Linked DNA regions of Homo sapiens. The protein of the gene in region 1 interacts with the protein of each later gene in a biochemical or structural test. Each region holds a gene or a part of one and is shown in the gene's direction. Other genes may lie near its edges.

The links.
Region 2: the proteins of EIF3L (region 1) and RRN3 form a complex in vitro, tested with the Homo sapiens proteins (one study listed by BioGRID).

The regions. Positions count from the first base shown.
Region 1 is NC_000022.11:37,869,222-37,884,379, forward strand, and holds part of EIF3L (eukaryotic translation initiation factor 3 subunit L), read left to right. Parts: intron 1-954; coding exon 955-1,126; intron 1,127-5,148; coding exon 5,149-5,303; intron 5,304-6,619; coding exon 6,620-6,790; intron 6,791-8,452; coding exon 8,453-8,950; intron 8,951-15,158. UniProt on the Homo sapiens protein: Component of the eukaryotic translation initiation factor 3 (eIF-3) complex, which is required for several steps in the initiation of protein synthesis.
Region 2 is NC_000016.10:15,087,272-15,103,164, reverse strand, and holds the start of RRN3 (RNA polymerase I-specific transcription initiation factor RRN3), read left to right. Parts: upstream 1-8,892; 5' UTR 8,893-8,931; coding exon 8,932-9,020; intron 9,021-10,550; coding exon 10,551-10,656; intron 10,657-11,793; coding exon 11,794-11,850; intron 11,851-15,893. UniProt on the Homo sapiens protein: Required for efficient transcription initiation by RNA polymerase I (Pol I). Required for the formation of the competent pre-initiation complex (PIC).

The DNA.
Region 1 (15,158 bases):
GGGCTCAGGCAAAGCCCGTACCTCAGCCTCCTTAGTAGCGGAGACTGCAGGTGCCTGCCACCATTCCTGGCTAATTCGTTTGTGTTTTTTATAGCGATAGGGTTTTGCCATGTTTCCCAGGCTGGTCTTGAGCTCCTGGACCCAAGTGATCTGCCCACCTCAGTTTCCCAAAGTGCTGGGTTTACAGGGGTGAGCCTCTGATCTCTGCTGGAAGAGTTGAAGAACAGTCTTAGATCTTCTAAGACCTAGGTTTTAGGTCTGTGATTTCCAAACCTGATGCACACCAGATTCAACCAGAGAACTTTAAAAAATTGAGTAGGTAGGTCTGTTGTGTTCCATCTGTGTGACTGCTGGAGCCAGGCCAGGAGTGCTTCCAGGTTCTACTTCTGTCCCAAACAGATTCCTGTGGCATATCTTCTCTGTGTTCGTTGTGCTTGGCCAGACGACTCTGGTTGAGAGTGGTAGAGAGGTGACATAGTCTGGGAACTGATGGTCAGCTGTGGTAGGGAAGGCTCACACGTGCAGATACCTATTACCACATCACTGCCCATAACCCAGGGCGTACCACAGTCTAGCTGCATCTGAATAGATGGTACAAGAGCCCCTGTGGTGTTTCTGGTGGCCCGGTCAACTGCATTGTGAGGCCCAGAGACAGGAAGTGACTTTGGGTTGTGTTTGACTCCAGATTGGATGTTTTTACCACAGACTACCTCTAATCCTAGAGATTTTTACTTCACTGTGTAGTAAGTAACATTCAGTAATGAACAGAATTCACAGTTTAGTCAAGATGGCTTTGAAAAACAGTGTACGGAATGGTTTAGAATGAGAAGTGGTCATCTCACCCTCACCTTGCCCCATCCAGAGCCAGAGCATTGCCTCGTTTTCAGCATTGTGGACATGGATGATCACTTTGGGCTTATACCACTACTGCATGTTTCTTTTCTTCCTCAACAGTTTCAGTCATTCAGTCAGTACCGCTGTAAGACTGCCAAGAAGTCAGAGGAGGAGATTGACTTTCTTCGTTCCAATCCCAAAATCTGGAATGTTCATAGTGTCCTCAATGTCCTTCATTCCCTGGTAGACAAATCCAACATCAACCGACAGTTGGAGGTATACACAAGCGGAGGTGAGTGCAGCAGGCCGACAGCCGTGGCCTGCGAATTTCCAGCTGCTTGCCATCTGTTCCAAATGAATAGATCACTGCAAGGAGAGCAGATGAGTCACCATGTCTTAGGTGGTGGTCTGTTGACTCTTTGTAGGTGCTTGAGTACAAACAGTAGCAGAGTATTTGTGCTGGGGGCTCTGGGGCTTGGGAGTCCATTGGCCAACAGACTGAACCAGCACATTGAGATTTGCGTTTGTAAACACTTCTGTGTCTCCAGTGCTTTTGTTTAGATAAGCACTTCTCACACGTGTTGGTGTCAGAGCCACTTTACCCTGTTAAAATATTGAGAACCACAAAATGTATCTATTTTAAAAAATTTTTTTCTTTTTTTTTCAGTGAAGAGTGGCATTTTTGCAGATCTCTCTGTCTGGCTGAGATAGCTGGCTTCTCATTTCTGCTTCTGCATTCAATCTGTTGCAATGTGTTCTTTTGTTTGAAGCACATAAAGAAAATCTGGCCCAGGCACTGTGGCTCACACCTGTAATCCCAGCACTTTGGGAGGCTTAGGCAGAAGGATCGCTTGAGTCCAGGAGTTTGAGACCAGCCTGGGCAATATAGTGAGACTTTGTCTCAAAAAAAATGTTTAAATTGACTGAGCATGGTGGGTGGGGTGCCCCTGTAGTCCCAGCTACTCGGGAGGCTGAGGTGGGAGGATTGCTTGAGCCCAGGAAGCAAAGATTGCAGTGAACTGAGATCACACCACTGTACTCTAGCCTGGGCCACAGAGCGAGAACTTGTCTGAAAAAAAAAAAGAAGGAAAATCTGGCTTCACACGGTTATAGGAAGTTTTTTTGTTGTTTGTTTTTGAGACAGGGTGTCGCTGTGTCACCCAGTCTGGTCTTGGACTCCTGGGCTCAAGCAGTCCTGCCTTGGCCTCCCAAAAGTGCCAGGATTATTGGAGAGGATTTTCTTTGATACTACACCATGTAGTAGTATGTATGGGTTGAATATTCCTGACTTGAAAATTTGAAATCTGAAATGCTCCAAAATCTGACTTTTTGAGCACCAACATGACGCCGTAAGTAGAAAATTCTACACCCAACCTCATATGAGCAGTTGCAGTCAGAACTTCGTCTCATGCACAAAAGTATTTAAAAGATTATAATAAAGTTACTTTCAGGCTGTGTGTATAAGACATATATGAAAAATAAATGAATTTTATGTTTAGATTTGGATCCTATCCTTAAGATACTCATTAGGGCCGGGTGCCATGGCTCACGCCTATTATCCTGGCATTTTGGGAGGCTGAGGCGGGCAGATCACCTGAGGTCAGGAGTTCAAGACCATCCTGGCCAACATGGTGAAACCTCATCTCTACTAAAAATACAAAAAATTAGCCGGGCCTGGTGGTGGGCACCTGTAATCCCATCTACTTGGGAGGCTGAGGCAGGAGAATCATTTGAACCAGGGAGGCAGAGGTTGCAGTGAGCCGAGATCGCACCACTGCACTACAGTCTTAGTGACAGAGCGAGACTCTGTCTCGGGGAAAAAAAAAAAAAAAAAAAAGATATCTCATTAGGCATATGCAGATATTAAAAATTGCAAAATCCAAAACACTTCTGATCACAAGCATTTATAGAAGTATACTCACCCTGTACTTCTTTGAAGTAACCAGTGGTAGTTTCATACAGATTAGGTGCAGTGAGGAATCTGAAACTGTATTGGTGAATTTTTCTTTTGTTAACGTTATTCGTCACTTCTGTAATTTGAATGAGTTCCTTACATCCATGTGTGACTTTTTTTTTTTTCCTGAGACAGAATCTGCTCTGTTGCTCAGGCAGAGTGCAATGTCATGATCTCAGTTCACTGCATCCTCTGCCTCCGGGGTTCAAGCGATTCTCCTGTCTCAGCCTCCAGGGATATAGAAAGGAAGGATTACAGGCACACGCCACCACGCCGGGCTGATTTTTGTATTTTTAGTAGAACAGAGTTTGACCATGTTGGCCAGGCTGCTCTTGAACTCCCGAGCTCAAGTGATCTGCCTGCCTCGGCCTCCCAAAGTGCTGGGGTTACATGCATGAGCCACTGCGCCTGGCCATGTGTGATTTCTAAAAAAATATTGGTTCTCTGAGTTATAAAGATCTTCCAAATGTTGACACATTTTATTACATTTTTTTAAAAAGTCAGATTTGTTACTTTTGCCACTGACATCAGGTAAGCATTTATTTGTAAGCTATAGAGCTTGTAGTGGCAGATACAAGTTTTACAAAATTCCATTTTTGCTTAATAGCTTGAATTTTTATTTATTTTGAGATGGGGTCTCACTCTGTCACCCTGGCTGAAGTGCGGTGGCACAATCATGGCTCACTGCATCCTCTACCTGCTGGGCTCAAGTGATCCTCCTACCTCAGCCTCCCAAGTAGCTAGGAACGCAGGTTTGCACCACCATACCTGGCTGATTTTTTTTTCTTTTTTTTTTGGTAGAAACAAGGTCTCACTTTGTTGCCCAGGCCAATCTTGAACTCATGGGATTTCATGTGTGAGCCACTGTGCCCAACCTTTGAACTGTTTTATAGGTAGCAAACACTGTCAGTTATTTTCTTTGAGGTATGACAGGTTTACTTCATTTTTGTGAAAATGTCTGCCCTTTTTTCCTTCTTTTTTTATTTTTATTTTTTTTGAGACAGAGTCTTGCTCTGTAGCCCAGGCTTGAGTGCAGTGGCACAATCTCTGCTCACTGCAACCTCCGCCTCCCAAGTTCAAGCAATTCTCCTGCCTCAGCCTCCCCAATAGCTGGGACTGCAGGTGTGCACCACCACACCCATCTAATTTTTGTATTTTTAGTAGAGACGGGGCTTCACCATGTTGGGCAGGCTGGGCTCAAACTCCTGACCTCAAGTGATACGTCCGCCTCGGCCTCCCAAAATGCTAGGATTACAGGCATGAGCTGCGCTCAGTTGCGTATCAGTTTTTTTTGTTTTTTTTTTTTTGAGGTGGAGTCTCGCTCTGTTGCCCAGGCTGGAGTGCAGTGGCGCAATCTGGGCTCACTGCAAGCTCCGCCTCCCGGGTTCATGCCATTCTCCTGCCTCAGCCTCCCAAGTAGCTGGGCTACAGGCGCCCACCACCATGCCCGGCTAATTTTTTGTATTTTTAGTAGAGACGGGGTTTCACCTAGCCAGGATGGTCTCGATCTCCTGACCTCGTGATCTGCCCACCTCAGCCTCCCAAAGTGCTGGGATTACAGGCGTGAGCCACCGCTCCCGACCTATGTATCAGTTGTTTTTTTCAAGTAAAAATGAAAAAAGAATTTTCTTTCTTTTTTTTGTCTTTTTTTTAGAACAGGGTCTCTCTGTTACCCAGGCCAAAATGCAGTAGCACTTCCATAGATCTCAGTCTCAAAAAACAAACAAACAAACAAAAAACAACTGATACAACAATCTCTGGTTATTCAGATATGGTACCTGGGCTCAAGCACATCCTCCCATCTCGGCCTCTCAAGTTGCTGGGATTAGAGGTCTAAGCCACCAAGCCTGGCTAAGGACTAGTTCTTTTAGTGCAAATGCATGGCAAGAAGCAATGCAGTGACTACTGGTACAATTTTGTGTCGTTGCCTGATTTATGCTTAAGTTGACAGTAATTTTACCCAACATAGTGTTTGCATCATGCAAAATTCAACTCAGTGGGAAGGGCAAGTAACATCTTAGTGTTGTTATTAGGAAAATAGCTTTGACCTCATGTGCTTTCTGAAAGGAGGAGTCTTCGTGGTTGTATTTTACTGATGAGAGGGGCCTTTGCATGTGTTGGGACCAAAAAAAAAATAAGCAAAATGAACTGCCATCCTGTAAGCAAATATTGGTAAATCGAAGATTAGCATAAGATTGGTTTTGCTGTTTCTTGGTATTCCTTTGAAGTTATTCCCCAGTTGTTGAGGGAAGCTTTCAAGGCTGGCAGTAGGTGAGATGCCTACTGAGTAACATTCAGAGGTCAGGTGTGCCTGCCTTTACCTGCCTCCTATCAGTATTCACGGTGTCTGTCTCTTTCAGGTGACCCTGAGAGTGTGGCTGGGGAGTATGGGCGGCACTCCCTCTACAAAATGCTTGGTTACTTCAGCCTGGTCGGGCTTCTCCGCCTGCACTCCCTGTTAGGAGATTACTACCAGGCCATCAAGGTGCTGGAGAACATCGAACTGAACAAGAAGGTGATGCCTATTGCCTCTGGCCCCTCTTGCCAGAGCCAGAATATCTATTTCTAGAGAACCACTCTGATCTCTTAGGACAAATTTCCAGGAGAGGAAAGAGGACTGTTCCCTCAGGCCATTGAAAGTTGAGACTAAAACTGGGCAAACAGCTGTGGTAAAAAGCTAGACCTGGACGATTTTGGTAGTTAACAACAGTTTTTTATTTTGTTTTCAAAATGGAATGATGATGGCAGCTTGCTCTGTCACCAGGCTGGAGTGCAGTGGTGTGATCTCAGCTCATTGCAACCTCCGTCTCCTGGGTTCAAGCGATTCCCCTGCCTCAGCCTCCTGAGTAGCTGGGACTACAGGCATGCGCCACCATGCCCAGCTAATTTTTTTTTTTTTTTTTTTTTTGTATTTTAGTAGAGTTGGGGTTTCACCGTGTTGGCCAAGATGGTCTCGATCTCCTGACCTCGTGATCCGCCTACCTCGGCCTCCCAAAATGCTGGGATTACAGGCGTGAGCCACCATGCCTGGCCCATGGCAGCTCTTTGCTCTTCACATTTTGCTAAAGGATTGAGAAGGCCAGACGCAGTGGCTCACACCTGTAATCCCAGCAGTTTGGGAGGCTGAGGCAGGTGGATTACTTGAGGTCAGGAGTTCGAGACCAGCCTGGCCAACATGGTGAAACCCTGTCTCTGTTGAAAATACAAAAAAAAAAAAAACTAGCTGGGTATGGTGGTGGGCACTTGTAATCCCAGCTACTCAGGAGGCTGAGGTAGGAGAATCACTTGAACCTGGGAGGCAGAGGTTGCAGTGAGCCGAGATCACACCATTGCACTCCAGCCTGGGCAACAGAACAAGACTCTGTCCCAGAAAAAAAAAAAGAATTAAGTAAAGATGTAATTCTAAGATGGTATGTTCATTGATACATGGTTAGCTGTTGTGTTCTTCCTAACCACAGAAAAATATTACAGATAATTTTTATTTGGTGTTTGGCTCATGTGCATGTATGTGTTTCTGTCTTCCCTGTCCAAAAGGACTTAATTGAAAAAGCAAGGAAAAATAACAAAACTGAGATGTATAGCATTTTAGAGCTGAAGGAGATTTTAGGGATTACCTGATCCAGAACCTTCTTGTTTACAGCTAAAAAAATGGATTCCTCAAAACATACAACTTAATTGATGAATAGGAAGATCCGCTCTCAAACTCTGGGACTCCAGAGCTTCCTCTGGATAGTTGAGGGCCTCTGCAGGGAAAACTCTTGGTGTTTCTACCTCTGGTTCTATCTAGGATGAATTGGGACTCATGAATGTTTGTTCTACCTCCTTCTACAGAGTATGTATTCCCGTGTGCCAGAGTGCCAGGTCACCACATACTATTATGTTGGGTTTGCATATTTGATGATGCGTCGTTACCAGGATGCCATCCGGGTCTTCGCCAACATCCTCCTCTACATCCAGAGGACCAAGAGCATGTTCCAGAGGACCACGTACAAGTATGAGATGGTAAGGGGGACTCTGCCTGCCACCAGTGGCCTTTCTAATCAGGGGGATCCTTGGCACCTATGCCAACCATTCTTGGTAAACACCATCCAAAATATTGCACTTTTAAGCCAGGAGTTCAAGACTGTAGAGCGCTCTGTGATTGTGCCTACTAATAGATCACCCAGCTGGAGTGCAGTGACGCAGTCACAGCTCACGTCAGCCTCAACCTCCTGGGATCAGGCGATCATCCTACCTTAGTCTTCCGAATAGCTGGGCTTAAAGGCGCACACAACAACACCGGCTAATTTTTTTTTTTTTTTTTTTTTTTTTTTGAGACGAAGTCTCTGTCACCCAGGCTGGAGTACAGTGGTGCAATCTCAGCTCACTGCAACCTCCGCTTCCTGGGTTCAAGTGATTCTCCAGCCTTAGCCTCCTGAGTAGCTGGGACTACAGACGCGTGCCACCATGTCCAGCTAATTTTTGTATTTTTAGTAGAGATGGGGTTTCACTATTTGGCCAGGCTGGTCTCGAACTCCTGACCTCAGGCGATCCATCCACCTCAGCCTCCCAAAGTGCTGGGATTACAGGCGTGAGCCACCACGCCCAGCCAAAATGAACTTTTAATGGCTAGCATACTCTTAGGAGTTTCTGTTGTGATGCCTGTTACCTCAGATCATTAACATCTTGATGATAAGGACTTGATGATAATATCTTTTGTTTCAGTTATATCCTCCAGCAGTGCCTACATTTATTTATTCAGCATCAGTATGCTGAGTGTTCACTGGGTTCTAAATGTTTTGATATAAGGTGTGGATATTGGTGGGAAGGAGGATGGGTTCAAGAATTGGGAGGAGCTTCCTAGGCAGAGAATATCATGAGCAAAGTGGTTGAGACTTGAAAGTGTGGTGATGCAGCCGCACAATAAACTGTTCTGGCTGGAGGGCAAGTAGGTAGTAGGAATTGGGTTATTAGATTCTGAGAACCTTCATTAACCCAGGTAAAGTATAGTCCTGTGTCATTTGATGCTGCAGATACATTCTGAGAAATGCATCATTTGGTGATTTTGTTGTGTGAACATCATAGAATGTACTTACACAAACCTAGATGGGATAACCTACTACATACCCGGGCTACATGGTATAGCCTATGGCTCCTTGGCTACAAACGTCTAGAACATATTACTGTACTGAATACCATAGGCAGTTGTAACACAAAGGTATTTGTGTATCTAAGATACAGTAAAAATACAGGATTATAATCTTGCAGGATCACCATCCTATATGTGGCCCATGGCCCGTTGTTGACTGAAACGCTGTTGCACGGCACATTACTATTTAGTCTATATTTCTGTCGTCATCAAGGTTGCATCAAAGGTTTTGGGTAACTCGATCCTAACTGTGTAAAAGGATTGACCTGCTAGTGATGTGTGGGACAAACTGGAGAGACTAAGACAGAGGTGCCAGTAAGGAATCCAGAAGATGGCTAAGGAGGATCTGGAGCTAGGATGGAAGTTAGGTAGATCTAGAGGGAGGATTGGAAGAGATGTTGGGGAAGTTCAATGGCTGGTATGAAACAACTGGGTAAGTCAAAGATCTGTGCAGAGAATGGTGAGGCCAGTTGGCAGTGGGGACCTCAGGAAGTCCGTCTCATTTGACCCAGTACCACTCTCCACCCCATCCCCAGATTAACAAGCAGAATGAGCAGATGCATGCGCTGCTGGCCATTGCCCTCACGATGTACCCCATGCGTATTGATGAGAGCATTCACCTCCAGCTGCGGGAGAAATATGGGGACAAGATGTTGCGCATGCAGAAAGGTGACCCACAAGTCTATGAAGAACTTTTCAGTTACTCCTGCCCCAAGTTCCTGTCGCCTGTAGTGCCCAACTATGATAATGTGCACCCCAACTACCACAAAGAGCCCTTCCTGCAGCAGCTGAAGGTGTTTTCTGATGAAGTACAGCAGCAGGCCCAGCTTTCAACCATCCGCAGCTTCCTGAAGCTCTACACCACCATGCCTGTGGCCAAGCTGGCTGGCTTCCTGGACCTCACAGAGCAGGAGTTCCGGATCCAGCTTCTTGTCTTCAAACACAAGATGAAGAACCTCGTGTGGACCAGCGGTATCTCAGCCCTGGATGGTGAATTTCAGTCAGCCTCAGAGGTTGACTTCTACATTGATAAGGTATGCCTGTCCCCTGGGCTTGGGGTCTTGTATTAAGTGTTCAGTATCTTTCATTCACTATTGTGGGCACATGAAGTATATCGGGGAACAAAAAGATTCCTGGCCTTGTGGTGCTGCCACAAGGTGCCAGGTGTGGTGGCTCATGCCAGTAATACTAGTACTTTAGGGGAGGCTGGGGTGGGAGGATCACTCTAGCCCAGGAGTTCAAGACCAGCCTGGGCAACGTAGTGAGACCTTTTCTCTATTAAAAAAAAAAAAAAAAAAACACAAGAGATAAACAATAGATGGTTTTGTTTTGGTTTTTTTTTTGAGATGGAATTTCGCTCTCGTTGCCCAGGCTAGAATGTGATGGCACGATCTCGGCTCACCGCAACCTCCGCCTCCCAGGTTCAAGCCATTCTCCTGCCTCAGCCTCCTGAGTAGCTGGGATTACCGGCATGTGTTACCATGCCCAGCTAATTTTGTATTTTTCGTAGAAATGGGGTTTCTCCATGTTGGTCAGTCTGGTGTCAAACTCCCAACCTCAGGTGATCAGCCAGCCTTGGCCTCCCAAAGTGCTGGGATTACCAACAATAGATGTTATAATTAAACAATAGATGTTATAATTAAACAAACTATGTAGTAAGAAGTTGCCAAGCACTGCAGAGTAAAGGAAGGCAGAGGTGGTGGGAAGCACAGGTTGCAATGTTAAATACGGTGTTCAGACAGGCTTTGTTGAGAAAGTGAAGTTTAAGCTAAGCTAAGACTTGAAGGAGGTGAGGGAGTAGTGTTTTGGTTTTTTTTTTTTTTTTTTTGACAGTCTTGGTCTGTCGCCCAGGCTAGAGTGCAGTGGTGCAATCTCGGCTCCCTGCAACCTCCGCCTCCCAGGTTCAAGCAATTCTCCTGCCTCAGCATCCTGAGTAGCTGGAATTATAAGAGGCCGCCACCACACCTGGCTAATTTTTGTATTTTTAGTAGAGACAGGGTTTTGCCATGTTGGCCAGGCTAGTCTCAAACTCCTGACCTGAAGCGATCCATCTGGTGGAGAGTTCTTAATAGCTCACCAAAGGCTGGACACGGTGGCTCATGCCTGTAATCCCAGCACTTTGGGAGGCCGAGATGGACAGATCATGGGGTCAAGAGATCAAGACCATCCTAGCCAACATGGTGAAACCCCATCTCTACTAAAAATAAATTAGCTGGGCATGGTGGCGCATACCTGTAGTCCCAGCTACCCGGGAGGCTGAGGCAGGAGAATCACTTGAACCCAGGAGGCGGAGGTTGCAGTGAGCTGAGATCGCTGCACTGCACTGTAGCCTGGCAACAGAGCGACACTCCGTCTCAAAAAAAAAAAAAATAGCTCACCAGATATCTGGAGGAAGAGCCTTCCAGGCAGAGGAACAGTTAGAGCAAAGGCCCCGAAGAGGAGTGAGGCCAATAAGTTTAAGGGACAGTTGTAGTATGCCCGAGTAGCCTGAGAAAGGAGGCTGTGAAGATGAGATTGGAGAAAGGGGGATGGTGCTTTGTATACTGTTGGAGTACTTTACAAGTGGGAAGCCATTGTCCTGCTGCCTTCTTTATTTTTTTATTTTTAGTTAGCAATAATCACACCTCACATAACCCTCATTGGCCATACTGCCACTGCACAAAGCTTTTTTTTTTTTTTTGAGATGGAGTGTCATTCTGTCGTCCAGGCTGGAGTGCAGTGGCACGATCTTGGCTCACTGCAACCTCTGCCTCCCGGGTTCATGCGATTCTCTTGCCTCAGCCTCCTGAGTAGCTGGGATTACAGGCTCACACCACCACACCCAGCTAATATTTTGTGTATTTTTAGTAGAGACAGGGTTTCACTATGTTGACCAGACTGGTCTCCAACTCCTGACCTTGTGATCCGCCCGCCTCGGCCTCCCAGAGTGCTAGGATTACAGGCGTGAGCCATCGCGCCCGGTATTATTTTATTTTTATTTTATTTTATTTTATTTTGAGATGTCTCGCTCTGTCGCCTAGGCTGGAGTGCAGTGGCGCGATCTCAGCTCACTGTAAGCTTCACCTCCCAGGTTCACGCCATTCTCCTGCCTCAGCCTCCCGAGTAGCTGGGACTACAGACACCCGCCACCACACCTGGCTAATTTTTTGTATTTTTTAGTAGAGACGGGGTTTCACTGTGTTAGCCAGGATGGTCTCAATCTCCTGACCTCGTGATCCACCCACCTCGGCCTACCAAAGTGCTGAGATTACAGGCGTGAGCCACTGCATCCGGCTCTCTTTTTTGAGACAAGGTCTCACTCTGGTTGCCCAGGCTGGAGTGCAGTGGTGTGATCTCAGCTCACTGCAGCCTCAACTTCCTGGGTTCAGGTGATTGTCCTACCTCATCCTCCCAAGTAGCTGAGATTACAGGCGCACGTCACCACGACTGGCTAATTTTTGGTATTTTTAGTAGAGATGGGGTTTGGCCATGTTGCCCAGCCTGGTCTCGAACTCTGATATGTGCCACTGTTCCCAGCCGATTTTAAGTTTTTACTTTATAGAAACAGGGTCTCACTTTGTTGCCCAGGCTAGTTTCAAGTGATCCTCCTACCTTGGCCTCCCAAAATGCTGGGATTACTGGTGTGAGCCACTGCGCCTGTCCTGTCCTGATGTCTAACATCTTGGATTAGTGCTGCCTGTTTGTGAACTTTATATAATGGAATTACACAGTATGTACTCTTTAAGTCTGGCTTCTTTTGCTCAACGTTATAATTGAGTGAGTCACCGTCCATTGTGTGTAGCAGTGATTCCTTCATGTTTATTGTTCTGTGATAGTCCAGCATCTGCTGTTGTTATTGTACTGCAGTTTATCCATTCTCCCATTGATTAACGTTTGGATGGTTTGTATATTACAAAAAATACAAGTAAGGTTTTTACAGAGTGGCTAGTAATACATTTATATATGCCTATGTATGCCTCAAGTTCTTTCCAGAAGGATACACAAGCAACATAGCAGTAGCTTCCTCTCAGGAGGGGAGGTGGGTTGAAGAACAGTGTTAGTTTTCACTGGCACTTTTAAGTTCAAGCTGGACATTTTAATGTCTGATGAGATTTTCATTTTTATTTATTTATTTAGAGACAGAGTCTCATTGTATCACTCAGGCTGTAGTGCAGTGATGTGATCTTGGCTCACTGCCACCTCCGCCTCCTGGGTTCAAGCAATCCTTCTGTCTCAGCCTCCTGATTAGCTGGGACTACAGGCGCTGATGAGCTGATGAGGTTTTTAAAAGAATTGTTTTCTTTTTTTTTAGACTGAGTCTTGCTCTTGTTGCACAGGCTGGAGTGCAATGGCACAATCTTGGCTCACCGGAACCTCTGCCTCCCGGGTTCAGGCGATTTTCCTGCCTCAGCCTCCCGAGTAGCTGGGATGTACAGGGATGCGCCACCATGCCCAGCTAATTTTGTATTTTTAGTAGAGACAGGGTTTCTCCGTCTTGGTCAGGCTGGTCTCGAACTCCCGCCCTCAGGTGATCTGCCCGCCTCGGCCTCCCAAAGTGCTGGGGTTACAGACATGAGCCACCACACACGGCCGTCAGCCCAGGTTTTCTAAGATCAGCAAATGTCCATAGGGCAGAGGGGGTCTTCTGTGCTTTTCTTAGAATGGTTTCTTTTTTCCCAAAATGTTCTGTTACTATCTTGTCAGCTCTTTGATGCTGTAAGTTTTTTTCTAATATCCTGCATTTTTAATTGTTTTTGAAAGCATTTTGGGCCAGGTACAGTGGCTTATAGCTATAATCCCAATACTCTGGAAGGACGAGGCAGGAGAATTGCTTGAGCCCAGGAGTTCAAGACCAACCTGGGCAACAAACCAAGACCCTGTCTCTACTTTTTAAAAAGAGAAAAAGCATGCTGGGCATGATGGCTCACGCCTGTAATCCCAGCACTTTGGGAGGCCAAGGCGGGTGGATCACCTGAGGTCAGGAGATCAAGACCATCCTGGCCAGTATGGTGAAACCCTGTCTCTACTAAAAATATAAAAATTAGCCAGGCATGGTGGCACATGCCTGTAATCCCAGTAACTTGGGAGGCTGAGACAGGAGACTCACTTGAGCCCAAGAGACAGAGGTTGCAGTGAGCTGAGATCAAGCCACCGCATTCCAGCCTTTGTGACAGAGATGAGACTGCATCTTGAAAAAAAGAGAAAAAGCATTTTGGTCTAAATGTATTGTTGGAAATAGCACTTTTTGAGCAGTTCTTAAAAATACATAATTTTAGGCTGAGTGCAGTGGCTCATACCTGTAATCCTATCACTTTGGGAGGCCAAGGTGGGTAGATCATCAGAGGTCAGGAGTTCAAGACCTGCCTGTGCAACATGGTGAAACCCCGTCTCTACTAAAAATATTTAAAAAATTAGCCGGGCATGGTGGTGCGTTCCTGTAATCCCAGCTACTCGGGAGGCTGAGGCACGAGAATCACCTGAACCTGGGAAGCAGAAGCTGCAGTGAGCCGAGATTGTGCCACTGCACTCCAGCCTGGGCAACAGAGTGAGAGACTGTCTCAAAAAAAGAAAAAAACATAATTTTTATACATAATTTGCATGATAAGCCGGGCGCGTTGGTTCACGCAAGTAATCCCAGCACTTTGGGAGGCCGAGCTAGGCGGAACACGAGGTCAGGAGATCAAGACCGTCCTGGCCAATATGGTGAACCCCATCTCTACTAAAAATACAAAAATTAGCTGGGCGTGGTGGCGGGTGCCTGTAGTCCCAGCTACTTGGGAGGCTGAGGCAGGAGACTTGCTTGAACCTAGGAGGCGGAGGTTGCAGTAAGCCAAGATTGCACCACTGCACTCCAGCCTGGGCAACAGAGCGAGACTCCACTTCAAAAAAATAAAAAAAGGCTGGGCATGGTGGCTCACGCCTGTAATCCCAACACTTTGAGAGGCGAAGGTGGGCGGATCACTTGAGGTCAGGAGATCAAGACCAGCCTGACCAACATGAAGAAACCCCATCTCTACTAAAAATACAAAATTAGCCAGACGTGGCAGCGCATGCCTGTAATCTCAGCTACTCCGGAGGCTGAGGCAGGAGAATTGCTTGAACCCGGGAGGTGGAGGTTGCAGTGAGCCAAGATCGTGCCATTGCACTCCAGCCTGGGCAACAAGAGTGAAACTCCGTCTCAAAAAAAAAAAAAAAAAAAAAACTTGCATGATCCCAGCACTTTGGGAGGCTGAGGCAGGCAGATCACGAGGTCAGGAGATCAAGACCATCCTGGCTAACACGGTGAAACCCTGTCTCTACTAAAAATACAAAAAATTAACCGGGCATGGTGGTGGGCGCCTGTGGTCCCAGCTACTCGGGAGGCTGAGGCAGGAGAATGGTGTGAACCCGGGAGGCGGAGCTTGCAGTAAGCAGAGCTCGCGCCACTGCACTCCAGCCTGGGCGACAGAGCGAGACTCCATCTCAAAAAAAAAAATTGCAGGATATAAACTTCACCATTTTAAAATGTGCAATTTGGCCAGGTGTGATGCTTTACACCTATAATCCCAGCACTTTGGGAGGCCAAGGCTGGCAGATCACTTGAGACCAGGAGTTCAAGACCAGCCTGGCCAACATGGTGAAACCCCATCTGTACTAAAAATACACAAATTAGCTGAGTGTGGGGGCGCATGCCTGTAATACCAGCTACTTGGGAGGCTGAGGCACAAGAATCGCTTTAGCCTAGGAGGTGGAGGTTGCAGTGAGCCAAGATCATGCCACTGCACTCCAGCCTGAGTGACAGAGTGAGACCCTGTCTCCATAAATAAATAGAATGAATGAATGAATGAATGAAGAATTCAGTGGTTATTAGTATGTTCACAGTGTTTTGCAACCATCTCCACTGTCTAATTCCAAAACATTTCTGTCCCCCCAAAAAGAAACTCCCTACCCACTAGCAGTCACTCGCAGTTCCCCAGTTCCCCCTTTCTGCCATCCCCTAGCAAACCCCTAATCTGCTTTGGTCTCTCTGCATTTGACATTTCAGATAAATGGAATCATGTAATATATGGACTTTTGTGTTTGGGTCCTTTCACTGAGCATGTCTTCAAGTTTCATCCATATTATAGCATGTGTCAGTACATTCCTTTTATAGCTGAATAATATCCCATGTATTAATGTACTGCATTTTGTTTATCCATTTGTTGTTGCACATTTGGGGTTTTTGGTTTTTGGGGGTTTTTTGTTCCTTTTTTCACTTTTTGGCTTATGAATAGTGCTGCTGTG
Region 2 (15,893 bases), on another chromosome or scaffold:
GACCCCCAGGGAGGCACAGCATCCTCTTATCTAAGATTTTTTTTTTTTTTTTTTTAAGAGACAGGGTCTTTCTCTGTCGCCCAGGCTGGACTGCAGAGGCACAATCATAGCTCACGGCAGCCTTGAACTCCTGGGCTCAAGCGATCCTCCCACTTCAGCGTCCCAAGTAGCTGAGACTACAGGCACACGCCAGCATGCCCGGCTGGTTTTTTAATTTGTATTTCCTTTGAGACAGCGTATCTCTCTGTTGCTCAGGCTGGAGTGCAATGGCTCAATCAGCTCACTTTAGCCTTGAACTTCCGGGCTCAAGTGATACTGCCACCTCAACCTCCCAAGTCTGCTACTACAGGAACACAAACTCCTTTTTTAAATTTTTTGTGGATATGGGGTCTCACTATGTTGCCTAGGCTGGTCTCGAACTCCCAGGCTCAAGCAGTCCTCCTACCTCAGCCTCACCAAATGCTGGGATTACAGGTGGGAGCTACTGTACACCTGGCCTTATCTAAGCTGTTTCCCTGAAAATCCCCGTCTTGGGTAATGATTCCTTTGGCCCCACCATGCCCTGTCCTGCCTTCCTGGCTGTGCCCAAGCTTGGTCCCTGCCTGCCTGCCTGCCTCCCTCTCTGGGTCTCGAGCTCCTGTGACACATGACTCCTCTCTCTTCCTGGAGTGATCCAAGCCCTGCCACTTCCTGACTTTGCCCACACTGTACCCTCTGCCTGGGGCAACTTCATGTCTGCCCATTGACCCTTAGGCCTCAGCCCAGGCACAAGCCCCTGCCTCCGGAGGTCATCCAGGCCTCACCAGGCTACACCCTCTCGTAAAATTGGATTTCCTCCCTTCAGGGCAGGTTTATAATGAAATCCTCCTCAGAGGCCAGGTGCGGTGACACCCATCTGTAATCCCAGCACTTTGGGAGGCTGAGGTGGGAGGATCACTTGAGGCCAGGGGGTCGAGACCAGCCTGGGCAACATAAGAGAGACTCTTGTCTCTATAACAAATTTAAAAATTAGCTCACCAGGCCAGGCTCAGTGGCTCATGCCTGTAATCCCAACACTTTGAGAGGCCGAGGCAGGTGGATCACAAGGTCAGGCGTTCAAGAGCAGCCTGACCAACATGGCGAAACCCTGTCTCTACCAAAAATACAAAATTAGCCAGGCATGGTGGCACGCACCTGTAATCCCAGCTACTCGGGAGGCTGAGGCAGGAGAATCGCTTGAACCCAGGAGGTGGAGGTTGCGGTGAGCCAAGATCACGCCATTGCAGTCCAGCCTGAGCAACAGAGCAAGACTCTGTCTCGAGACAATAAAAACACACAAAAAATTAACTCGCCATGATGGCACATGCCTATAGTCCTAGCTACTTGGGAGGCTGAGGTGGGAGGATTCCCTTCAGCCCAGGAGTTTGAGGCTGCAGTGAGCCACTATGATTGTGCCACTGCACTCTAACCTGGGCAAAAGCGAGACCCCAGGCTAGAGTGCATGATTTTGGGTCACTGCAACCTCCACCTCCCAGGTTCAAGTGATTCCCCTGCCTCAGCCTCTTGAGTACCTGGGACTACAGGCATGTGCCACCACGCCTGGGTAATTTTTGTATTTTTAGTAGAGACAGGGTTTAGTAGAGACCATGGTGAAACCCCGTCTCTATTAAACAAATCTCTACTAACCCCATCTCTACAAAAAACAGCTGGGCATGGTAGTGCACACCTGTAATTCCAGCTACTTGGGAGGCTGAGGCACGACAATCATTTGCATCTTGGAGGCAGAGTTTGCAGTGAGCCGAGATCGTGCCACTGCAGTCCGTCCTGGGTGAAAGAGCGAGACTCCGTCTCAAAAAACAAACAAACAAACAAAAAAGACCGTGCCTATCTGTCTATCTCCCTCATAGGTCAGTTTCCACCTGAGTGTAACCACATCAAGTATCCTAGTATATTTCATATTTACAGGAAAATAAATGGGCAAATACTGTCATTTACGGAGAACCTGCCCTGTCCTGTACACCGTGACATATTTTGTGGTTTGTGGTTATGTGCTCTAATCCTTACGATAGCTCTAAAATAGCTCAAAAAGTTATTCCCATTTTGTACATAAGAAAATTGAAGTTCTGGAAACATAAGGCAATTGCCCAAAGTAATAGAGTAAATTACAAAGCTAGGATTTCTTTCTTTCTTCCATTAATTAATTAACTATTTGAGATAGCGTCCCTGTTGCAGGATGCAGTGGGGAGATCATAGCTCACTGCAGTCTCGACCTCCTGGGCTCAATTGATCCTCACGTCTCAGCCTCCTGAGTAGCCGGGACTACAGGTGCACACCAACACTATGGCTGATTTTTGTATTTTTCTGTAGAGATCTGCCTAGGCTAGGCAGAGATTCTGGCTAGGCTGGTCTCAAGCTCCTGGCTCAAGCAATTCTCCTGCCTCACCCTCCCATATAGCTGGGACCACAGGTGTGTGCCACCACTCCCAGCTGACTTGTTTATACCAGTGGTTCTTAATTGGAAGAGTTTTGTACCCCAGGGACATTTGGCAACATCTGGAGATATTTTTGAATGTTACTGTGGGGAGGAGAGGAGTGCTACTGTCATCTACTGGGTAGAGGCCAGGGATGCTGCTGAACATCCCACAGTTCACAGAACAGCCTCCTCCCCACCCAACAGAGAAGTATCTGGTTGGCCCAAAATCTCAATGATGCCAAATCTAAGAAACTGCTTTGTATTTCTCTGAGATACTGGGATGAGGAACGCTCTAAATTAGTTGTCTTTGAGGATAATGTATGTATACATACACATATATGTGTATACATGTATATAACTAAAGATATATAGTTGAGATCTTGCATTTGTGTTAATGAATGTAGTTTTTATAAAGATAATTGACTCATACAATAATTGTTGACTCTTTGGAAAGGAAAAAGGACAAATGAGATACATGCTATTGGTTTTGTTATTTAGAAATTTTTCGTGTGGATCCGCCCTACCATTCAGCCATTTGCAAACCATTAGTTGAGCATAACTTAATCCCTTCTAGTTCACAGCAAAGATTCATCAAAAGCCATTTGGTATACTGTCACCTCATCTCTCTAACAGTGTTGATTAGATTACAGGAGGGTTACAGGAGGGCACCTTATCCAAATTGGCCAATGATAAATTCTTTTTTGGTACCTTACTATATATTTGTATCCTCAGAACAAATTCTCCTTTTCTGCTTAAGCTGGCTTGACTTTGTTTCTTTCACTAGCAAGCTAAGAGGCTTTGGCCAACAGAACTACTCTAGGGGTAGCTGTAAAATTTATCTCTAAGGAAAGGCTGCTGTTTTGAAATAACAGTTTAATGGGTCTTCTGGGTATATGATGATAGTAAAGCAAAATTTTGTTCTGGAATGAAGAAGCTGATTACATTGTTGTATTACAAACAATATATTACTCAGTGAAGTGAAAGGCCACACTGTGGGCAGGGTGGTGACTTTGCAGATAGCATGTTAATCCTTGCATGCTTTTTGTTGTTTCTCTTTTTGGAGGGGGAGGGTCTTAATTTTCTTTATCCCTCCCCCACCCCCTTTATTTTCTCTGGGGAAGGCAAGACTGGATAAGGAGGCTTTTATCCTGCCAAGATGAGTTGGCCCACAGGACAATTTGACTGAATAGAGGCTCCACAAAGAACGGACATGGTCAAAGAATTACAACAGAAATTATGCATTTAGTTTTAAGGTTTTCTTTTTCTCCTTTTTTTTTTTTTTTTTTTTTTTTTGAGACCAAGTCTTGCTCTGTTGCCCAGGCTGGAGTGCAGTGTTGCGATCTTGGCTCACTGCAACCTCTGCCTCCTGGGTTCAAGCAATTCTCCAGCCTCAGCCTCTCAAGTAGCTGGGATTACAGGCACCTGCCACCACACCTGCTAATTCGTATTTTTAGTAGAGATGGGGTTTCACCATGTTGGCCCAGCTGGTCTTGAACTCCTGATCTCAAGTGAGCCACCTGCCTCAGCCTCCCAAAGTACAGGGATTACAGGCATGAGCCACAGGGCCCGGCCAGTATTTTTCTTGTATAATGCTCAGAGTTTCCTTTAAATCTTTTTAAAAACTTGGCAGCCTTAGTCTTAGCTGTGCTTTGGGAAAATAAGGAGCTGCACTCAAGCTTAAGAAGATATTGCTGGAAGTGTACATTGGCACAGCCTTCAAAAAGCTTCTTGGTGCCCTCCTGTAACCCAATCGACACTGGCTAGAGAGATGAGGTCATATTGCATCAAATGGCTTCCAGTGATTCTTTGCTGTGGACAAGAAAGTTGCTCTTTTTTTTTGAGAGGGAGTTTTGATGCCTAGGCTGGAGTGCAATGGCAGTGATCTCGGCTCACTGCAACCTCTGCCTCCCAGGTTCAAGTGATTCTCCTGCCTCAGCCTCCCAAGTAGCTGGGATTACAGGCATGTGCCACCATGCCAGGCTAATTTTGTATTTTTAGTAGAGACAGGGTTTTTCCATGTTGGTCAGGCTGGTCTCGAACTCCCGACCTCAGGTGATCCACCCACCTTGGCCTCCAAAAGTGCTGGGATTACAGGCGTGAGCCACCATGCCCGGCCAAGAAGGTCACTCTTTATGCTCAACAAATGTATTGCAAATGGCTGAAAGGTAGGGAGGATCCAGATGAACAATTTCTAAATAGAAAAACTAATAGTAGCCAGACACGATGGCTCACACCTGTAATCCCAGCATTTTAGGAGGTCAAGGTAGGCAGATCACCTGAGGTCAGGCATTTGAGACCAGCCTGGGCAACATGGAGAAACCCCATCTCTACTAAAAATACAAAAATTAGCCAGGTGTGGTGGCGGGCACATGTAGTCCCAGCTACTCAGGAGGCTGAGGCAGGAGAATCGCTTGAACCCGGGAGGCAGAGGTTGCAGTGAGCTGAGCTTGTGCCACTGTACCCCAGCCTGGGCAACAGAGTGAGACTCTGTCTCAAAAAAAAAAAAAAAAAATCATAGATATCCAATTTGTTCCTTTCTCCTTTCCTAAAAGCTTTTGGTGCCCCCTCCAACCCAACAGTTCCACCCTAGAAAAACACTTGTACACATACATCAGGACATGATACAAGAATATTCAGGCTGGTCGCGGTGGCTCATGCCTATAATCTCAGCATTTTGGGAGGCCGAGGTGGGAGGACGGCGGGAGATCATGCCACTGCACTCCAGCCTGGGCAACAGAGGGAGACTCCGTCTCAAAAAAAAAAAAAAAAAAAAAGCATAATGTTGAAAACAAACAGCAGTATAATACAGCATGGAGATAACTTTATAAAATGCAAAGACAAATAAAAGTAAATATAGTGCATTGTTTAGGAGTATAAATATGATAATTATTCAAAGAAAACTAAAATGACTTTTAAAAATCATGATGGTGACTATTTTTGGGAGGAAAGCAGGTAGAAGGTGGGATCCGAGAGCAGCACAGAGTAAGTGTCAATTGTCCTAGTTAATGTTCGGCTTCTTAAATTGGGCGATATGTTCACAGGTGTTCATTATGTTCTTTTTTTTTTTTTTGGAGACGGAGTCTCACTCTGTCACCCAGGCTGGGGTGCAGTGGCGCGATCTCGGCTCACTGCAAGCTCCACCTCTCGGGTTCATGCCATTCTCCTGCCTCAGCTTCCCAAGTAGCTGGGATTACAAGTGCCTGCCACCACGCCCGGCACATTTTTTTTTTTTTTTTTTTTTTTTGTATTTTTAGTAGAGACGGGGTTTCACCGCATTAGCCAGGATGGTCTCGATCTCCTGACCTCGTGATCCGCCTGCCTCGGCCTCCCAAAGTGCTGGGATTACAGGCAGGAGCCGCTGTGTCTGGCCCATTATGTTCTTATAACTTACATTAACATATTATTTTGTACATATCAAGCTTTTTTTCCCTTTTTTTTTTTAAGAGATGAGATTTTGCTTTGTCACCCAGGCCAGAGAGTGTCGTGGTGTAGTCATAGCTCACTGCAGCTTCCAACTCCTGGGTTCAAGTGATTCTCCCACCTCTGTCTCCCAAATAATTGGAACTACAGGCACGTGCCACCATGCCTGGGTAAGTTTTTTAAAAGTGTTATTTGTAGAGACGGAGTCTGGCTGTGTTGCCTGGGCTGGTCTCAAACTCCTGGCTTCAAGTTATCCTCCTGCCTCAGCCTCCCAAAGCTCTGGCATTACAGGTGTGAGTCACTGCACCCAGACTCAGACTTTTTTTAAGGGAAAGAATGGGAGTGTAGGTGGGGAGACACACTTTGGGAGGCCAAGGTGGGAGGATCACTTGGGCCGGGGGTTCAAGACCAGCCTGGGCAACAAAGTGAGACCTCGTATTTACCAAAAATACAAAAAATTAGCTGGGCTTGGTGGTGTGGGTTCGGGCGGCTGAGGTGAGAGGATTGCATAAGCTGTAGGAGCCCGAGGCTGCAACGAGCCATGATCGCGCCATTGCGCTCTAACTTGGGCTAGACAATGAGATCCTGTCTCAAACCAAAACAAAACAAAACAGATAATTGTCAGATTGCTGTTTTGCTATTGTTGCTTTTTGTTTTTGCTTTGCTTTCCCTTGGAAGTGAAGAAGAGATTCTCATTTAAACAGTTATCTTGAAGTATCTTTGTGAGCTACGGTGCAATTATTTCCTCTGTCCTTGAGACACAGATGATTCCTGTCCAACATTCCCAAGGAACTCAGTAAGGACCAAATAGAGACTCAGGAAAGACAGTTACTGATTTTACACTGTTGCAAAACAGAGCTATGGTTTATGTTTAACAAACTGCTGGCGGGGCGTGGTGGCTCATGCCTGTAATCCCAGCACTTTGGGATGCCAAGGCGGGCGGATCACTTGAGGTCAAGAGTTTGAGACCAGCCTGGCCAACATGGTGAAACCCTGTCTCTACTAAAAATACAAAAATTAGCTGGGCATGGTGGCGCATGCCTGTAATCCTAGCTACTGGGGAGGCTGAGGCACAAGAATCGCTTGAACCTGGGAAGCAGAGGATGCAGTGAGCCAAGATCATGACACTGTACTCCAGCCTGGGTGACAGAGCGAGACTCTGTCTCAAAAAAAAAACAAAAAACAAAAAAACCAAATTGCTGTATTTTATGTTGTGAAATAGGGTCTTGCTGTGTTGTCCAGGCTGGAGTGCAGGGGTACAATCACAGCTCACTGCAGCCTTGACCTCCAGGGCTCAAGTGATCCTCCGTCCTCAGTTTTCAAGTAGCTGGGACTACAGGTATGCACCACCATATGTTGCCCAGGCTGGTCTTGAACTCCTGGAGAGAGATACATATAAACACACACACACACACACACACACACACACACCTTTTTTTTTTTTGAGACACAGTTTCACTCGTCACCCAGGCTGGAGTGCAATGGCACGATCTTGGCTCACTGCAACCTCTGCCTCCTGGGTTCAAACTATTCTCCTGCCTCGGCCTCCCAAGTAGCTGGGATTACAGGCACTGCCACCATGCCTGGCTAATTTTGTATTTTTAGTAGAGACAGGGTTTTGTCATGTTGGCCAGGCTGGTCTCAAACTTCTGGCCTCAGGTGATCCACTTGCCTCGGCCTCCCAAAGTGTTGGGATAACAGGCGTGAGCCACTGCGCCGGGCCCATACATATGCATTTTTAAAAACTTATTTATTTATTTCGAGACAGGGTCTCACTCTGTTGCCCAAGCAGGAGTGCAGTGGTGCTATCTCCCAGGCTCAAGCAATCCTCAGCCTCCCGAGTAGCTGGGACTACAGGTGTGTGCCACCACACCCAGATAATTTTTATTATTTTTATTTTTTAAATTTTTTGTAGAGATGGAGTTTCACCGTGTCACCCAGGCTGGATATTTTTGTATTTTTGATAGGCCTGTACAGTTTCCAAAGTTGCAACCTTTTCCCCTCCCTGAGAGTAGGGGCAGCCCCTGCTCTCCCTCTACATCCTCCACAGTCCCGAGGTTTTGGCCTCTGTTTCCTCCGTTTCCTATGCTTGGAACGCCAGTGGCTCTTTTGTTGGTCTGGCTGACTCCTGTTCCTCTTTTAAAAATTTAAGTTTGGCCGGGCGTGGTGGCTCATGCTTGTAATCCCAGCACTTTGGGAGGCCGAGGCGGGCGGATGACCTGAGGTCATGAGTTCGAGACCAGCCTGGCCAACACAGTGCAACCCCGTCTCCACTAAAAATACGAAAATTAGCCGGGTGTGGTGGCATGCGCCTGTAATCCCAGCTACTTGGGAGGCTGAGGCACGAGAATTGCTGGAACTGGGGAGGCGGAGGTTGCAGTGAGCTGAGATCACACCACTGCACTCCACCTGGGCAAAAGGGCAAGACTCGGCCTCAAAAGAAAATAAATAAATAAATAAATAAAGTCAAGGGGGTAACACCTCTTCGTAACTCTCCTGTTGTTTCTCATGCCAGCATCACCATAGCCTTGAGGCTCTGAGGTAGGTCACTTCGTCGAGCTCGTTTCCGTGAGGATAACGTTATCTTGGGTGTCTGTGAGACTGCTGCACTGAGTATAGAGCCCAGGCTCCTGGGTCAGCCGGGTTCGAATCCCCTTTCCTCCGTGAAGATCTGGGTCAGTCACAAGTGCTTCAGTTTCTTCGATTTGACTGAGGGAGGCTTTGACTCCAAAAAATTAACACTTGAGTGTACCCGGCCACAGCTTAGCACATCCAGGGTGTTTCCACCCTTTCTTCGGGATCCTCAGGGCTGGATGGAGCCGGTCCTTCCCGTCTCTCCTTATACTCACGCACTAGCGCTGGCTGGAACAAGTCCTCCAAGTAGAACGAGGAGCGGGTTTCAGCGGCGCTCTAGCCCGCCGAGAGCATACGCCCTCCCCACGCGGGGCCGCTGATTGGCTGAAGGTTGCGCTGGCACGCGCAACTTCCGGGACAGAGGCTGTGGCTGGAAGGAGCTGGGCATCCGGCCTGAGGCGCAGCGGTCGCGTTAGTTCGGCCCAATGGCGGCACCGCTGCTTCACACGCGTTTGCCGGGAGATGCGGCCGCTTCGTCCTCTGCAGTTAAGAAGCTGGGCGCGTCGAGGACTGGGTAAGATTCAGGCCGCTTCCTTCTGCGTATCTGGGACGAAAGCTCAGGACGGCGCTTAGAGGAGCGGATTGAAAGGATGTGGGACAAAGCTCATGGCGTGTGATAGGAGCACGGGGTGGAGGGTCATCTCACGTTCACAGAAATGAGCTCATTCCTCCTAACTGGGTAATAGACATGGGTGGGGCCTGGAAAAGTGACTATGTTCTCTGTTCTGGAGGCCCCCTTTCCCGACTGTGTCTCTTCGTGATTTCCCAGGCCTGGGTACTGCCTTCTGCGCCTTGACCCCTCTTCCTTCCCTCTTCTTCGTCCAAATTTGGAAGGGATTTCCCTGGGCTATGTGGGTTATCAGCCGAACGTCGTCACTCATGGCAAATTGAATATTACATCTTTTTTGTTTGGAATTTGTTTCGACACACGTATTTGTTTCGCAGTCTTTATTTTGCTCCACTTTTAAAATCCCTAACCCCCGTAGCACTCTTGGCGTTTAACTTTCAGAGTCATTAGGATGCTATGTTTTTTCATTAATTTACTACGTGTAAGTGAAGCAAACCTTGTAAAACAATTAGCGTAATATGATTCATAATAATTATCGAGCTCCTGCTTACTGTGTTAAACACTGGGGACAGTGGTTTATCCAAAGACACTAATGTCCCTGCTTTCTACAGAGCTTACAGCATAGGGGGGAAAGGCAGTACATAGGCCAATAAATAAACGAACACGATGATTTCAGTTATACAACAAGGTAATGGGGGAGGGAGAAGGGAGAGAAGGAGCTTTTGAGATTTCTCATTGGGAAGACATCTGTCATTTGAGCTTCCACTTGAATGAAGACAAAAATCTAGGCCGGGCGCGGTTGCTCACGCCTGTAATCCCAGCACTTTGGGAGGCCGAGGCGGGCGGATCATCTGAAGTCAGGAGTTGGAGACCAGCCTGGCCAACGTGCGAAACCTCGTCTCTACTGAAAATACAAAAATCAGCCGGGCATGGTGGCAGGTGCCTGTAATCCCAGCTACTCAGGAGGCTGAGGCAGGATAATTGCTTGAACCCGGGAGATGGAGGTTGCAGTTAAGCCAAGATCACACCACTGCACTCCAGCCTGGGCAGCAGAGCAAGACTCCATCTCAAAAAAAAAAATCCAGCCACGTAGAGATTTGGGAAAAGAGTATTTCCAATAGAGTGAACAGTAAGTGAAATGAAAAACAGCTTGGCTTGTTTGAAGAGCAGAAAAGACGTTATGGCTGTAGTAAAACAAGTTGTTGGAGATGAGGTGAGAGAGGTAGGCAGGGGCCAGATTAATGTAGGATCTTAAAGACCACACTGAGAGATTTGGATTTTTACTGTAAGTGCAGTGGGAAGACAGTTATTGGTTGCTGAGCAAAGGAAGGATTGTTGGTTAAGAGTGGAAGCAGGGAGACCAGTAAAGAGGCCTTAACAATAGTTCCACTGAATTATGTTGGTTCAATAAATGTTGGCTATTATAATTTTTATTATTTTCATGAACTTAATAGCTTGTTAATCTTGGTTCCACAGGATTTCAAATATGCGTGCATTAGAGAATGACTTTTTCAATTCTCCCCCAAGAAAAACTGTTCGGTTTGGTGGAACTGTGACAGAAGTCTTGCTGAAGTACAAAAAGGTAAGGGGAGATAATGTGTGAGGTTTGCTTTTGGTTAGGTCAGAATACAACTATTGCTGTTATACTAAAGACCAATAGAAATAGCAAGATTAATTAAGATACCAGTTGAAATCAAATATTTAATAATAGCATGATGCCGTCAGTGCAAAATTAGAGTAATAGTGTCCTTTTTTTCCCCCACCTTGGCCCATTTCACAGGTAATAATGAGAGAGTAATAATGTCTTTACTGAGGTTTCACCTCTTCAAATGCTTTATTTACGAAGCATCTTTTAACTTTAGCAAGTGCCAGAATTAAAAACAATTACACCATTTTATTTATTTATTTATTTGTGCTGGAGTCTTCCTCTGTCACCCAGGCTGGAGTGCAGTGGCGTGACCTCGGCTCACTGCATCCTCCACCTCCCAGGTTCAAGCAATTCTCCTGCCTCAGTCTTCCGAATAGGTGGGGTTACAGGCACACACCACCACACCTGGCTAATTTTTTTATTTTTTTAGTAGAGGCAGGGTTTCACCATGTTGGCCAGGCTGGTCTCGAACTCCTGACCTTGTGATCCACCCGCCTTGGCCTCCCAAAGTGCTGGGATTACAGACGTGAGCCACCATGCCTGGCCTACAGCATTTTATTTTTTGAGGAACTTACCTAAGCATTACTTTGGGACAGTAAACCAGTTCTCTGAGTAGGGATTTTTGTTTTTGTGGTAGTTTAGAAGCATTTCTACTGTATCTCAGCAGTAGAGGGAAAATGTTAAGTAACCATATGTTTATATGTAATATCCATTTGTATCCATATTTGAGTGAATACTTTTTTAGATCCTCCTGAATTAGATCATTATAGCTGGCTGTTTTTTTCCCTCATGCTTTTTGAGAATTCGCAGGAGTATCAACTATTATATTCAAATGTCAATACAGAAGTATAGCTAAATGTAGTTTATCATTTTCCTTTTTCCAAGCCCTCTGGCTGCACTAACATGAGTGTTTAAATTTTTGTAGTCATGATTTTATAATCCGCAATTGACATGTGAAAGTTAGTGTTCCTTTTATAATTTCATCTGATGTTAAAGTACGGTTAAAAGTCTTGCTGTTGATACTAAACAGGAAACAAAAGCATAACTTAATTCTTTCCCCTTCTTGTTAAGGGTGAAACAAATGACTTTGAGTTGTTGAAGAACCAGCTGTTAGATCCAGACATAAAGGTAATTAATTTTGTGTTTGATCATTAGCAAAATTATTGCCACTGTATACAGACATAGTTTGCTCTTTGGGTCCCATTCTGTCCTCCAGAACTTGCTCTCTCCATGGTCCTCCCTTATTTTAATCTGGTGGTTCTCAACCAGGGACAGTTTTACCCCCTAGAAGACATTTGGTGATGGCTGCAGATATTTTTGTCACAACTGGGAGGAAAGGGTGCTACTGGCATCTAGTGGGTGAATGACAGAGATGCTGCTAAACATCTCACAGTGCACAGGACAGCCTCCCAGAACCAAGAGTGATCCAGCCCCAAATGACAACAGTGTTGAGGCTGGGAAACCCTGCTCTAATGCTTCCTTTCTATTAGATTACTACCTCTTTCCTCCATGCTGCATGCAACTCTCTTGTCTCTTTAAAGCTAAAACAAAGCAAAAAAAAAAAAAAAACAAACCACTGATTCAGCATTTCCAGGTTCGAGATACACCTATCATGTAGTAAAAGCTGAATGCATTTTGTTTCACCATTCTTCCTTTACTGCCCAGTTTTGAAGAGAATGGTTTATTACTATGGCAGTGGTAGTTAGATTGCCTGGAATGAAATTCCAATTTTATTATCCAGTGTGTGATCTTGAGCAAATTGTTTTAACCTCTCTGCCTCTATTTTCCACTGTGTGAAACCAAGAAAACAATAGAGATTTAAAAAATATGGAGTGTTTTGTTTTTAAGAGATGTGGTCTTGCTGTGTTGCTCTGGCTATTCACAGGTGTGATCATAGTGCACTACAGCCTTGAACTCCTGGCCTCAAATGATCCTTTCTCTTCAGCCTTCTAAAAAGCTGGGACTATAGGTGCATGCCATGTTTAAAGTGCCTGGCTTTAAACATGGAAATACTTAACAAGGATTCAATGAGCTAATATGCAAGAAGCACTTAGAACAGTCTCTGACTCAAAGTAAGGGCAATAATTGTCATCTGTTGTTTTTGTTCCAGCTGACTGCGCTGTATCATTTCTCACTCACATTTAAGTCCACTGTTCTTATCACTGTAGTAATTACCCTGACAGGTTACCCATGTTTTTTTTTTACATGCTGATTTCAGTGGACTTTTTTTTTAAGACAAAGTCTCCTTCTTACCACGCAGGCTGGAGTGCAGTGGTGTGATCTGGGCTCACTGCAACCTTTGCCTCCTGGGTTCAAGCAATTCTCCTGCCTCAGCCTCCCAAATAGCTGAGATTACAGGCACCCGCCACCATGCCTGGTTAATTTTTTTTATTTTTAGTAGAAACGGGGTTTCACCATGTTGGCCAGGCTGGTCTTGAACTCCTGACCTCAGGTGACCTGCCCGCCTTGGCCTCCCAAAGTGCTGGGATTACAAGTGTGAGCCACTGAGCCCAGCCTCAGTGGACTTACTTTTTTAAGCCTTGTATTCCTTGTATCAGCCGACACTGTTGGCCACCCACTTCTTAAAACTTCAGCGTTTCTGATCCTCCTGTCTCCTGATCCTTTAATCTGTTTTTTTTTTTTTTTTTTTTTTTTTGCTCTGTCGCCCAGGCTGGAGTGCAGTGGCGCAATCTTGGCTCACTGCAAGCTCCGCCTCCCGGGTTCAAGCGATTCTCCTGCCTCAGCCTCCCAAGTAGCTGAGACTACACTCGCCCGCCACCACCGCCAGCTAATTTTTTGTATTTTTAGTAGAGGTGGGGTTTCACCATGTTAGCCAGGATGGTCTCGATCTTCTGACCTCGTGATCCGCCCGCCTTGGCCTCCCAAAGTGCTGGGATTAGAGGCGTGAGTAACCACGCCCGGCCAGTGATCCTTTAATCGCTAGTATTTCTTGATAGTTTCTTGATCTTAAATTTGGTGTTGATTGGGCTTCAAAACTTGACTCTTTTCTCACTCTGTTGATTCTTCTGTGTGATCTCCTCATCTCCCTTCATGGCTTTGAAATCTACCTGTGTCCTAATATATTTGTGTCTGTAGCCAAGATTGCTCTTGTGGGCTCCAGACTTATTTCATTTTCGTTTTTGGGGACGGGCAGAACAGAGTCTTGCTCTGTCACCTAGGCTGTAGTGTAGTGGGATGATCTTGGCTCACTGCAACCTCTGCCTCCTGGGTTCAAGCCATCCTCCCACCTCAGCCTCCCGAGTAGCTGTGCCACCATGCCCAGCTAATTTTTTTGTATTTTCAGTAGATTTGGGGTTTCACCATGCTGGCCAGGCTGCTCTCGAACTCCTGACCTCAAGTGATCCACCCGCCTCAGCCTCCCAAAGTGCTGGGATTATAGACGTGAGCCACTCCACCCGGCCTAGACTTGTTTCTTAACTGTCTGTTAGATGCATTTACCCAGAATCATCATAGATGCTCCAAACTTAGCATGTCCACTCTTGGCTGGGCTCCATCTTTCATGGAGCTTTCCCTGGTTCTCTCTAAGCACATGGTTGTTCCTTCATTGAGTCCATTTCCCACACTTCCAGATCTCTCTAGTTACAGATCTGGTTTACAAGGCCCCCCATGGTCTATTTGGTGCTTCTTTGTTCCCCAGATTTATTATCTGTTGGCTTGGTCACTATACATGCCTGCCATACTGAACGTTTTTCAGTTTTCTGAAAACATACTTTTCCTTCTGTAAGAAGCAGAACTTCCAGAAAAGACTCAACTGTGTTACTGTTTAAAGACAGCTGAAGCATCACTTTCTCTTTAAAGCTTTTCCTGACCCCTGCCTTCTTTCCCAGATACAAAGGGACATTTTCTTTGTGTTCCACTGTATTTTGTATCAGCAGTTCTCATTCTTGGTATTTTGACATACCAAGAATTGCACTAGTTGTGTGGAGTGTTGCAAGTAGAACTTTTTTCCATCTTGAGACAGGGTCTTGCTCTGTCACCCGGGCTGGAGTGTAATGGGCCCGATCATGGCTCACTGCAGCCTCAACCTCCCAGGCTCAAGCAATCTTCCCACCTCAGGCTCCCGAGCATCTGGGACCACAAGCATGTGCTACCATGCCTGGCTAATTTTTCTGGAGATGAGGTCTCCCCATGTTGCCCAGGCTGGTCTCAAATTCCTGGGCTCAAGCAGTCTCCTCCTGCCTTGGCCTCCCAAAAGTGCTGGGATTACAGGCATGAGCCACTGTTCCTGCCTGCTAGTAGAAATAATAATAGTTCAGTACTAAAGCATCAAAGTCTGCAACTGATTTACTTTTTTTTTTTCTTTTTGAGACGGAGTTTTGCTCTTGTTGCCCAGGCTGGAGTGCAGTGGCATGATCTTGGCTCACTGCAACCTCTGCCTCCGAGTTTTTTAAGCAATTCTCCTGCCTCAGCCTCCCGAGTAGCTGGGATTACGGGCATGCACCACCACGCCCAGCTAATTTTGTATTTTTAGTAGAGACGGGGTTTCTCCATGTTGGTTAGGCTCATCTCGAACTCCCAACCTCAGGTGATCCACCCACCTCGGCCTCCCAAAGTGTTGGGATTACAGACATGAGCTACCACGCCCAGCCTGATTTACTTTTAAAAATGGTACAGTTTAAATGTTATCCTTATAGTTTTGTTGCAGTCTTTTTAGTGGAAAAGAGATAGGATAGTTTATTTTATTTGTACACTAACTTAGCTTGTTTTCTACATGCCTTTGGCCTTAGTGAGCTACCGTTAATGTTATCCTTAACAGTTGTGGACATATGAAATTACCATAGTACAAATGAGTTGTGGTTTTACTTTATTTTACTGCCAGGCTACTTGGGATTTCATCAGAAAATGGTTGATCTGTGGGAGTTTGACACATGGATATGGCATAGTAAGCACTCAGTAGCTGAATTAAGGTGGGGAAAAGGGGACAGCTTCTTCTCCGCATATAGGGAGGCGTGTGGGACGGTGGACAGAGGATAGCCTTGACCGAGACAGACGGGTTTGGACCTGCTTCTTTACTGGCCTCTTGGTTGGGCAGATTGCTTATTAATCGTTCTTAGCCTCAGCTTCCTGAACAGCAAAATGGGAATAACTAAACATCTTGCAGAGTTTTTAGGATTAGAAGAAGATATATATGTGGAGTGTCAGGCACCATG